Linked DNA regions of Homo sapiens: region 1 is linked to region 2. The links come from fine-mapping of genetic effects on gene expression. A gene starts in region 2. The other region holds a variant in brackets. All regions are shown on one strand. Distances are between the middles of the regions. Region 1 has its middle 110 kb from the start of NABP1. Region 2 holds the start of NABP1 (nucleic acid binding protein 1).

The links. PIP is the estimated chance that this variant, and not a neighbour inherited with it, causes the effect. A credible set is the group of variants that fine-mapping cannot tell apart.
Region 1: its variant is the best candidate, but not a certain one, in a credible set for the expression of NABP1 in whole blood (TOPMed, PIP 0.68).

What each region holds. Positions count from the first base shown.
Region 1 is chr2:191,568,451-191,573,826 of GRCh38, reverse strand. No RefSeq gene overlaps it. Among named protein-coding and RNA genes, the nearest start is that of NABP1, 110 kb to the left of the region's middle. The variant G/A (reference allele first, on the strand shown) is at 2,286.
Region 2 is chr2:191,674,658-191,680,025 of GRCh38, reverse strand. It overlaps NABP1 (nucleic acid binding protein 1), which reads right to left and starts at 1,890. Exons shown (of 6, transcript NM_001031716.5): 1 at 1,321-1,890; 2 at 898-1,036. The coding sequence starts at 1,411. RefSeq lists enhancers at 1-719, 1,547-2,049, 2,259-2,338, 3,932-4,041 and silencers at 1,189-1,248, 1,849-2,198, 3,989-4,283.

The DNA of each region.
Region 1 (5,376 bases), 110 kb after region 2:
GAATTATTCTGAGCTTTAATGCCTACAAAAAAATAATTCTCTTTCCACTAAGGCAGGTGCCCATTGGCAGATGTTCCAGCAACTGTACCACTCTACAAAGTATAGAGATCCAGTCTCCTGGGGCTAATGAGGTTATTGATTCCTAAGAACTATCTGGCTTCAGGCAAACTACCTACTCCCAGAGACTGAAATCTATGCCAGTGTGAATATTGTAGTCTGTTTTCCCACTGGTGTACTGCAATTTCAATAGTCTTAACCTACAATGTAGGAATTTAACAAATACCATATCAATGGGTTGCTAATTATGGATTATAGGCAACGGTGCCAAGAATAAACTCCTTAAACCTTCCCCAAGCACTAGGATGCTTCAGAATTTCCCTTGATGGCTGTTTACACACTTTTAGAGTCTAACACTTTACCTCTTCCTCTCAATATGATTCATCTCCACCCTGACACTATAATAATAAGACTAAAAATATTACAGCATATCAAATTTGGAGAGAGGCAGTGAGAAAATCTGGAGAACTTTCCACTCAAAGTTTCTTCTGTTAATATCTATCACAGCTTCTCATTACCTGAGAACAGAAATCACAATGAATGTTTCTGCCTTTAAGAAGTGCAATAAATAAACTGTATTGTAAAAAAGACAGTTTTTTTGTGATTATATACAATTTGGGTGAGTATAGAAATAGGCCATTGAGGAGCATGTATATGTGCATAAACATAGAAATACATTTTGGCAAAATTAAGTTGCATTGTCACAGAAGTGTGACCATAAAGTAATAAGATTAGTTTCCTTGTCAAACTTGTGGAAATCATTTGTCATTCTGTATATGTATGTATTCTATAATTGTGTTTCAAATGTAGCAACCCTTAAGTACCTGGTCTCACAAATACATTGGAGTCTCTTCTCAATTCCACTTTCACCCAGTTAGATTTATGACTCTCATAAATGATCCAAAGATTCGGGCTCCATGATTACAATGGACACAAAGAGAAATTAGGTAGACATGAGGCATTAGGGCAAAACACATAGGCCCACCCTAATTGAGTAGGCAGCTACCACTCTCCATTCTAATAAGCCAGTTTCAGTTGTACTAGAAAAGTCCTCTTGTCAATAGGAGAAGTCCCAAATTTTCCATCATCTGCATGCCTGACACCCGCATGGCCGACATGCCTTTAACTACCATTTATGGACCAGGTACTTTATATACCTAATCTCTAGTCCCTATAGCCACTCACAAATGTGCATATTACTATCATCGTTACTATTTGACACATGAGAAAATAGACTCATAAAGGTTAAATGACTCGCCTAAGGGCCCACAAGTGATAAGTAGATGAACACAGATTAGAACTTCTAATTACCAATCTTCTGTCTTATTTCCAAGCCTTGTGACTCAAAGACAAAGCTTGTCATTGCCACAATTAATGTTCAAATGCAAACGTAGACAGCATAGGATAATAAGACTCTGTGTCACTCACACTAAGGATCCAATGAGGAGAGCAATGGAGCCCCCATACCTGGTAAGAGTGGGGAAAGAAAAGGTTTCAAAGAAGTGAGTCTGAGGGTCCTAGGGACACAGTGTGCCTTCTCACAATTCTACCCAGGGTGGGGCGACTGAATTCTCAAAGCCTTGTCTTATTTTATCTCATGAGGCAAAAGCTCACTTTCATTCTAGGGCTTCAAAGGTAGCCAGCACATTTGAATTACCCAATTTGTCATAAAAATATTGTTAGGAAAATGCCCAAACTATCAAAGATGAATTAAATTTTTCTGGCAGCTTGAGTTGGACTCATGTCTCTTCTTTCATTTGATATGTTACTGCTTGGTTTTTCATGATCTTGATATCCTTGCTTAGAAACAACATTCTCAGACACCAGGTATCAAGTAAGGGTTCAGGCCCCACTGCCTGAGTTCAAATTTTCAGAGTTTGGAGGAAGGCAGCCCAAGGGTCACTGGAATTATAATAACTTAAGGGAAAAAAAAAAAATATATATATATATATATACCAAGTTAGGCTTATGGCTTCCTCCCTAACTACCCAATGGAAAGAGATAGGGAGTAAGATAACTAGATGACATTTTTGGTCATTGTTGTTCCTAAAGGTCAACGTTTCTTCAGCTCTGGTTAAATTTTCAGCATTCTTACTTCTGCATGTTCTGTCCAGCCCCTCCTATTCCTATAATTTTGAGGAAGTCACTGAGGGAAAGTGCTGACTCATAAAATTAGTGACTGGAAGCCAGTAAGTGACAGCACTTACAGGCAAGTTTGTATTAAAAAT[G/A]TAATGATGTCAAGAAATTTCTCCAGGGACTTTGGCTTTTTATTGAAGTAAACTCATTTTCCCAGGTCTCACTTTGTTGCTTTTCATATTTGCAACTTTAATGACCAGAAAAAAAACCCCACAAAAAACCCAAAACGAAACAAAACAAAACAAAAACAAGCAGAGGAAGAAAGAAGGGAGGAGAGAGGGGGTGGGGAGAGAGAGTAAGAGAAAGAAATACGTGCATTAAAGAAAGGATTTGTTATCAGTACCCTCTTCTGGAAACACAAGAATGTAGCCTGGAATCGAGCTGTGGCATTTCTTTGATGAGAAAACAAAGAGATTTACGCTAGCAGACAGCGTCAGGCTTCCATGTGTCTGATGTTATTTGGGGTTGACATAATGTAGTAGAAAGAGCCCTAAACTTAGAAATCAAAAATTGTGGATTTAAATCCAGCCTTTGCTCCTAACCTTCTACGACCTCAATATTTAAATAATTCGGTGTTTTAAGTATAGTAGACCATATATCTGGATTAGAATCACCAGAGGCTGTTGCTAAAACTGCAGAATCCCAGGATTCACTCCACCATCAGAATCAAACGGCAGGAATAGGTATGAATCTCAATTTTAAACAATTTCCAGGGAAATTCTTAAGTAGTGTTCTGGCTTCAGTTACCTAATCTGTAGGTAGATAACTACAGATAACTGATGATTTTCTTAGATTAAGTGACCTATAATGCCCCTTACACATCTAACGCTTCGTGATCTTATAAAACAAAACAGAAGGAATGATTCCTCAATGGATTAACAAACTGTGATGGATCCATACAGTGGATTAATCCTCAGGAGTAAAAAGGAATGAATTATTGATACATGCAGCCACATGCATGAATCTCAAAATATTTATGCTAGGTGAAAGAAATCAGACAAGAAAAGATGATTTCATTTTCATAAAATCCTAGAAACCGCAGAGTAATCTATAGTCACAGAAAGCAGACTGGGGATGGGGCAAAAAGAAGGAGGTCTTACAAAGGGGGCAACTATGAAACTTTCGGGGTGAAGGAAATGTTCATTATCTTGACTGAGGTGGCGGTTTCCTGGGTAAGCACATATGTCAAAACTTGTGAAACCACACACTAAATCTCTGCCGTTTACTATAAATCACTTACCCCAATAAAGTTGAAAAAGAAAGAAAAGAAAAAGAAAAGAAAAGAAAGAAGGAAGGAAGGAAGGAAGGAAGGAAGGAAGGAAGGAAGGAAGGAAGGAAGGAAGGAAGGAAGGAAAGAAAGAAAGAAAGAAAAAGAGAAAGAAAGAAAGAAAGAAAGAAAGAAAGAAAGAAAGAAAGAAAGAAAGAGAAAGAAAGAAAGAAAAAGGAAGGAAGGAAGGAAGGAAAAGAAAGAAAGAAGGGAAGAAAGGAAGAAAGAAAGAGAAAAGAAAAGAGAAAAAAGAAAGGGAAGGAAGGAAGGAAGGAAGGAAATAGACTAGGATCTTGGGGAAGTTTGGATATCCATCTTCCTGGATATCCAAAAAGATTTCCTGTCTACCTATAATAGACAGGAATCTGTCCTGAGTTAGAGGACAGGAAGAGTGAGGGTCCCTGGACTGAGAGCAGGGAGCATTTGTTAAACAGGGGAGGATCTGCAGGCATCCTAAATCGCTCCACTTCAAAGGCCAGAAAAGTAATTTGGAAGCTGTAAGAGCAGAGCTTGTGCAGTGGTCTGCGTGAGCTACAAGCCAGAAGCTTCTGCCTGCTGCCCAATCCATCCACAGCATTGTGGATACTCCCCACCTGTCTCCCTGTTTTGTTGCAGAGGTGGGTAGTGCCTGGATAAGTCCTCACGCTCATCACATTCAGCTCAGGCTGGCATCAGGGCTTTTGAGGCTGTATCATTGGTAAGGCAGTGTCTGTTTAAAATTACCTTGCTAGGCCAGGCACGGTAGCTCACGCTTGTAATCCCAGCACTTTGGGAGGCTGAGGTGGGAGGTTCACTTGAAGCCAAGAGTTCAAGACCAGTCTGGTCAACAGAATGAGACCCCCATCTCTACAAAAAAACAAAAACAAAAATAAAAATAAATTAGCTGGGCATGGTTGTACACACATGTAGTCCCAGCTTCTCAGGAGGCTGAAGCGGGAGGATCAATTGAGCCCAAGAATTCAAGGCTGCGGTGGGCTGTGAGGGCTCCACTGCACTCCAGCCTGGGCAACAGAGCAAGAGCCCATCTCTTAAAAAAATACATATATATTACCTTGCTAGCCCAGAGGAGTCTCGAACTGGAGTCAAGTTGAGGACTTGCTCCAGGATCTTCCAGAATAATGTTCCCAGCTCCCCACTGCCACCTCAGCTGAAACTGGGATTGCAGTCTGTATCCATACACTCCCTTCTCTTATCCTCCCCTCTCCCCCTCCCACAGAGCCCACTTTCTGAGCTCTGAGCTCTGCTTTCTGCAGGCTTGAAAGAACTTTACTGGAAGCTCTGGCAGAAAGTTAAATTGAATAAAGATCAAAGTTAATAAATTTCCTGGTAAACCCACAGATGGTCCACTTTAAAGGCAATAGTCCCATTCACTTCTGATTAAAATAAAAATTGTCTATAAAGAAACTCCCTAGAACAAAGTTGAATGATGGAACCATATTAAGAGAGCAGTTCATTACCCTTAAGTGAAAAATGCACAAAGTCATCATTCAGAGGCAGTAATGGAGTGGTGATGGTAAAGAGGTAATTAAACCTACATTTAGCTGAACAATTTGGGAAATCCTCCAGGGCACTAGAAATAGAATAGTCTCCCCAAAATACATACTATCTTCAGGCTACCTAGATGATCAGATTGGTGTCACATTTTATGCATAGGTCCAGTTACCTTTCAGTATCAGAGTGCAAACATTAGAAGCAAGTTCTGCCTATGGTCACTAGTTTGGTTTCTTTGTTTTTGGAGAAAGCATTTACTTGTATCCATTTCCTCATCTCCTAATATTTATCCCCATTAGCAGGTGCATGTTACCTGATCAATCTGGGGGAGGCATGTACTTGCATAATCACCTTTCTCCTCCCTACCCCCAGGGCCACCTCCCATTTCCCAACTTTTCAGAAACAATGAACTTGGTAGAATCTTA
Region 2 (5,368 bases):
GTATCCCTTTGGTTTTTGCGCAACATCCACCTTACAGCAGAAGACACAAGAAATCATTTTGGAGAATGAGCCTTCCAGATACTGTAAAGTTTCCCTCTTTTTCCAAGTACAAATTTGACATATCACAGAATATGCTAAATCCTTTACCTATAATTTTCATTTATGTCCACATTTCTAAATAACATATGTAAAATACTGGCCAGGATTTCAAGTCATTAAAAATGGAGAAGGGGTGGGAAACAACTGAGTGGCAACTACACTAGAGAAAACAACTTATAAAAAAGAAAAAATATGGACTATACCAGTCTCCTAAAAAGACTCACTGACTCAGAATAGAACTAAAAATCTATGCCGGGCGTGGTGGCTCACGCCTGTAATCCCAGCACTTTGGGAGGTTGGGGCGCGCGGATCACTTGAGGTCAGGAGTTGGAGACCAGCCTGGGCAACACTCTGAAACCCCGTCTCTGCTAAAAATACAAAACTTAGCTGGGCGTGGTGGCACACGCCTGTAGTCCCAGCTACTTGGGAGGCTGAGGCACGAGAATCTCTTGAACCCGCGAGGCGGAGGCTGCAGTGAGGAGAGATCACGCCACTGCACTCCAGCTTGGCGACAGAGCGAGACTCGGTCCCAAAAAATAATAATAATTAAAAATCTACTTAACCTGTAAACCGGGGTAGAGGCGCGGATTTCCCAGCTGAAACCGACTGCCTTTCACTGCAAAGGTCTGTTACATCCCAGCGCTGCCCACCACCCAAAGTTAACACCAAAGGAGTTCAAAACTCCTCAAGAGTGGCCCACAGAAAAGGCGGGGGACTTCAGGGCTTGCCAAGATCCCAGGAGCCGGCCAATCCCGATTCTGCAGACTGTTAGGTCCCCCGACTTTTTTGCACACCTACCCTCTGGTCAACCGAATAATATCCCCTGGCTGTATAAGACCTCCGATCTCATCCCACACGGAAATAGTGATGCTGCCCGTTTTATCTGCTACTTTGCACGATCTCACTTCATGGCCGTCTTTGGTTTTGGTCACGCGTCCTGTGAGGATTTAAAAATCAAAGGGAGGGGTTGTTAGATAATGAGGACATCCAGAAAGGCTAACTCCTCCTCCGGTATTTTAATACATCTGGAAGGTGGGAAGTGACCAAGCCCAGGGCTCCCGCCTCAGGTAGGATCCGATCTCGGGCGGAGGCCACTAGAGCCACGTGGGTGGGGGAGGGGAGGGAGGAGGAGGGGAGCCCCGGGCGCGCAGCGGCCGGCGCCCCTGTCTCCCGCCCCGGGAGGCACAGCGGGCGGTGGAGTAGGCTGCAAACCCCACTTACCTATCTCCAGGACAATAAAGACGACATTTAAGTTTTTCAGTCCGGGCTTAATATCTCTTATAAAAATAAGTGGGTCGTTGACCCTATTCATATTGGGACAGGCGCGGCTACGGCTGCGGAGACGCGAGTGGGCAGGGCGGGGTCAAAGCTTCCCACCCTCCCGGGACAGGGGCGAAGGCAGAGGGGCGACCTTGGGCAGGGGTGGCGAGAGAAGGGGCAGAAAGCCGTTAGTCAGGGACCGGGCAAACCAGCCCGGACAGCACTGAGCCTAAAAAAAGAAAAAAAAAAAAAAAAAAAAAAAAGGCTCACAAGTTCTAAAGAAAAAAAGGCGAACCACTCCGCACACCAACCCCGCTCCCAACCGGGCGACAGGAAGGCAAGCGTACTAACTGCCCCGTTCTTTGGATAAAAGGAAAAAAAAACGCAGTGAGGGGACACTTCTGCCCTGAGTCCCGCTCACTCACACGGGCGCGCGCCCAGCCTGTCCCGGGCTCCGGGAAGGAACGGGCTGTGACAGCGAAACGGGAGCGGAGACAGAACACCGCACACCCAGCGTCCCAAACAGCGACTGATGAACACGCCCGCGCGCCGGCAGGACCCTCGGCCCGCCCCTCCCCTTGTGAAGTCACGCTGCGTCGGCACGCCTGCTGCCACGCCCGCCTGGTGCTGGGGAGGGGAAGCAAAGGGGCGGGACCCGGCCGCCGCAGCCCGCAGAGCTTCCCTCGCTCCTCCCCGGGGGCTGTCAGCGCGGGCTCCGCCCCCTCGTCCTTCCAATCGCTCTCGGCCCCGCCTCCCCCGCCCTCCCGTTCTCCACCCACTTCAGCTGTCGCCGCGCAGCAGCAGTTCTGTTCGGTTTCGCCTTCCTGCTGTGCAGTCTTTTGACGCTTGCTGTCCAACTTTGGAGTTTTCTTGCCTTTTTTTCTCTCAGAGTTGAGCCCCTGCCCGGGCCCTTTAGTCCCTCGGTCACGAGGAACGGTAGAGTTTAGAACCTGTGAGTACGTTAGAAAGTTCGCAGTCGAGGAAGAACAGGGTTCGGGCAAGGGCAGCTGGTCCGGTACCAAGGGAAAACAGGCTGGGATGGTGAAGGCGTCAGTGGCTACAAGGCTGGAAGTTTAGCACCAGAAGGGAATTTGGAGATCAATTCAACCGCCTCATTTCAGGCATACTTAAATTGAAACCCAGAAAGATGAGGTAATTTGCAGAAGGTCACCCAGCAACCCCTGAGCAGGCAGGACTGCAACACAAATGTCTGACGTGGGCTTCCACTGTGTAATGCTAAGCAGATAGGACGTAAATTCCTTTGCAGACTTCTCATTTTTCCTTACCCCCTGCCTCTCATATTACACACCTTCCCCATTTAGCTTTTCTTCTTTTACTTTGCACTTGCTTTTGTACATCTAAAAGGAATTAATTATTCAACAGCAGTGGGAACCCTTGAAACATAATCTGGAAAAAAAGATTAATAAAGTTTTTTTTATGTCGCGTAGTGAAAAGAGCATGTGCTTTAGAGACAAACCTGGGCTCCAGCTATTTACTTGTGAGAGCTTTAGGTCAATTGGCTTTTATTACAGCTTTTTAACCATAATAAAATGGGGATCCCTGCCTAGCAGAAGATTGATTAAATGGATCATAAATTGTCCAACTAGTGCCTAGCAAATAGTACATACTCAGTATTTTCCCCTTTTTAATCCCCGTTTTACAGGCGATGGAACTCACCAGAGACCAGATAGCTAGAGAATGGCTGAGCTGGGTTTTAAATCTAGTCAATCTTGACCCCAGAGCTCTCCAGCCTAAAGGTAATGTTTAGACTTAACTTCCAGTGGTGTCATTATAAGAGTCAAAAACAGACTGAAGAAATAAAATAGCAGAATAAAGTAGTGGGGCATTAAAGAATCATCTAGTTAATTCTTGGTGATGATAACAGAAATGTTGGGAAAAGTGTCAGAAGCCTTAATTTTCTCCCCATTCTTTCTGAGTATCTTTAGATCAACCACCACTTCCCAAGTATTTGCAAACAAGCAGCATAGATATTATAGCCCTAGAAAGAGTTGGAAACATTATCACAACATTAGCAAGAGAGTCAAGGCATTTTTAAGGAAACAGAAGCTTCCATTTCATGAACTAATAAAGCCCAAGGTGCCAAAGACACTGATGTCATACTGGAAAGTGGTGTAAAATAAAATTATAAGCATAATTTCAACATCAAATAAAACAAATGATGAAACATGCCAGTTAATGGCAGAGCCAGCGTCCAACCTCAATCCCAATCCAGCTCAGAAGCTCTAATTCTACCATGGTTATCTGGCAGGACTTGACACTTCAATTGGATTGTACTCAAAGCTGTATTTTCTTAAACAGGCAAAATATTCTCACAGAAGCAATATTTAAGGCAGAGCTCTTTTTTTTTTTTTTTAAGGTTTGACAAGATCTTCAAAAGATTAAGAATAGACAGGAAACCAATTAAGAATGTTAAGAGTTACGGCCAAGAGTTTGGGCAAAGAAAGTTTGCCACTCAACTCTCAATCATTTGCCCCCAGAAAAGGGATTAGGTTGGGCTGTTCAGGCTAATTATATGAACATTTTATAAAAAGAAATCAGACACAGAAAATCAAGCCCCACAAAAGCAGAAGCTGGTACTCCAAGCTGTGGCTCAGCCCTTCCCTTCCCCCACAGGACAGAACTCAGCTGAACATCTACTTCCTTCCCTACTAACTCAGCAGTTCTCAGAAAGGAAATGGCAACCATATGCTTTCTCATTAACCAAAACGAAAGGCAGCCTTGAGAAACAAGATGGTCTGGGCAATACAGAAACTGTTCAGCCCAGGCTAGTTGGTTTCAGCTACCTCTAAATCACTCCCAAAGATGTGGTTAATAAAAAGAAAAAGGAGATGTCAAGGAGACAATTATTGCTAGGCAGATATCTTTTCTTATATTACCATTCAGTGAAATAGATCTGCCACTCAGTCTACTCATTTAGGTCATAATGATTATATTGCTGATTCTTTAATACATACACAAGATTACTTCATGGTCTTCTTTTCTCTAAGGCTGTTGTTCTTCAAGCCTTCATTTTTCACAGCCTAAACATAAGCTTACTCTGAGATGATGGACTCTTCCACTTTACATCCAGAACCTCAACACCATGTTTTAGTGTAAAGATGCTTAGTGAGATCCACTGTAATACAGAAGGGCATCCATTAGAATCCTGGACATAGAAGGTTCTGTTATCTGGGTCCTCATTGATAAAGGTTTTGTTGTAAATTTTACCCAGCACTCAGTACCCATGCTCACTCCCAGGTTTTGGTTTCTGGAATTACCAAAATTATTTTCACTTTGTTTTCACTATCCATCTATTTAAAACTATTACAACATCAATGAAACAGTTGTTTGTACCAAGTACTGTTTGATTTTAAATATCTTGTATAGTGAAACTTAACAATTTAAAAAATTAACAAGAACCACAGTGTGCTCACTCACCTTACAGGTATAATCCACTTTGTAACATAATTGGCAACTAAAAAAACAAAAAAAAAAAACTCAAACAAATAGTATTTTCTTAATTTCCCTAAAACAATTTAACCAAAAGACTCAGAAGTAATGTTTAGTAATGATTGCAGCAACAGCCACACAAATCATCCCTATAGTGATAAATGCAAATACACTGAGCACTTGCTATGGGCCAGGCATTTTACACTTATAAGCACTTTACACTATTTTGGGTTTTGTTTTTGTATTGGAGACAAGGTCTCACTCTGTCACCCACCCGGGCTGGATGCAGTGGCTGCACCATAGCTCACTGTAATCTGGAACTCCTCTGCTAAAGTGATCCTCCAGGTTCAGCCTCCCAAGTAGCTGGGACTACAGGTGTGCACCACCACGCCTTAGCTAATTGTTTTATTTTGTGTAGAGATGGAATCACACTGTGTTGCTCAGGCTGGTCTCAAACTCCTGAGCTCATGCGATCCTCCCGTCTCAGTCACCCAAAGTGCTGGGATTACAGGCATGAGCCACCAGACATGGTCTGATTTACACTTTTTGATGTGTTACT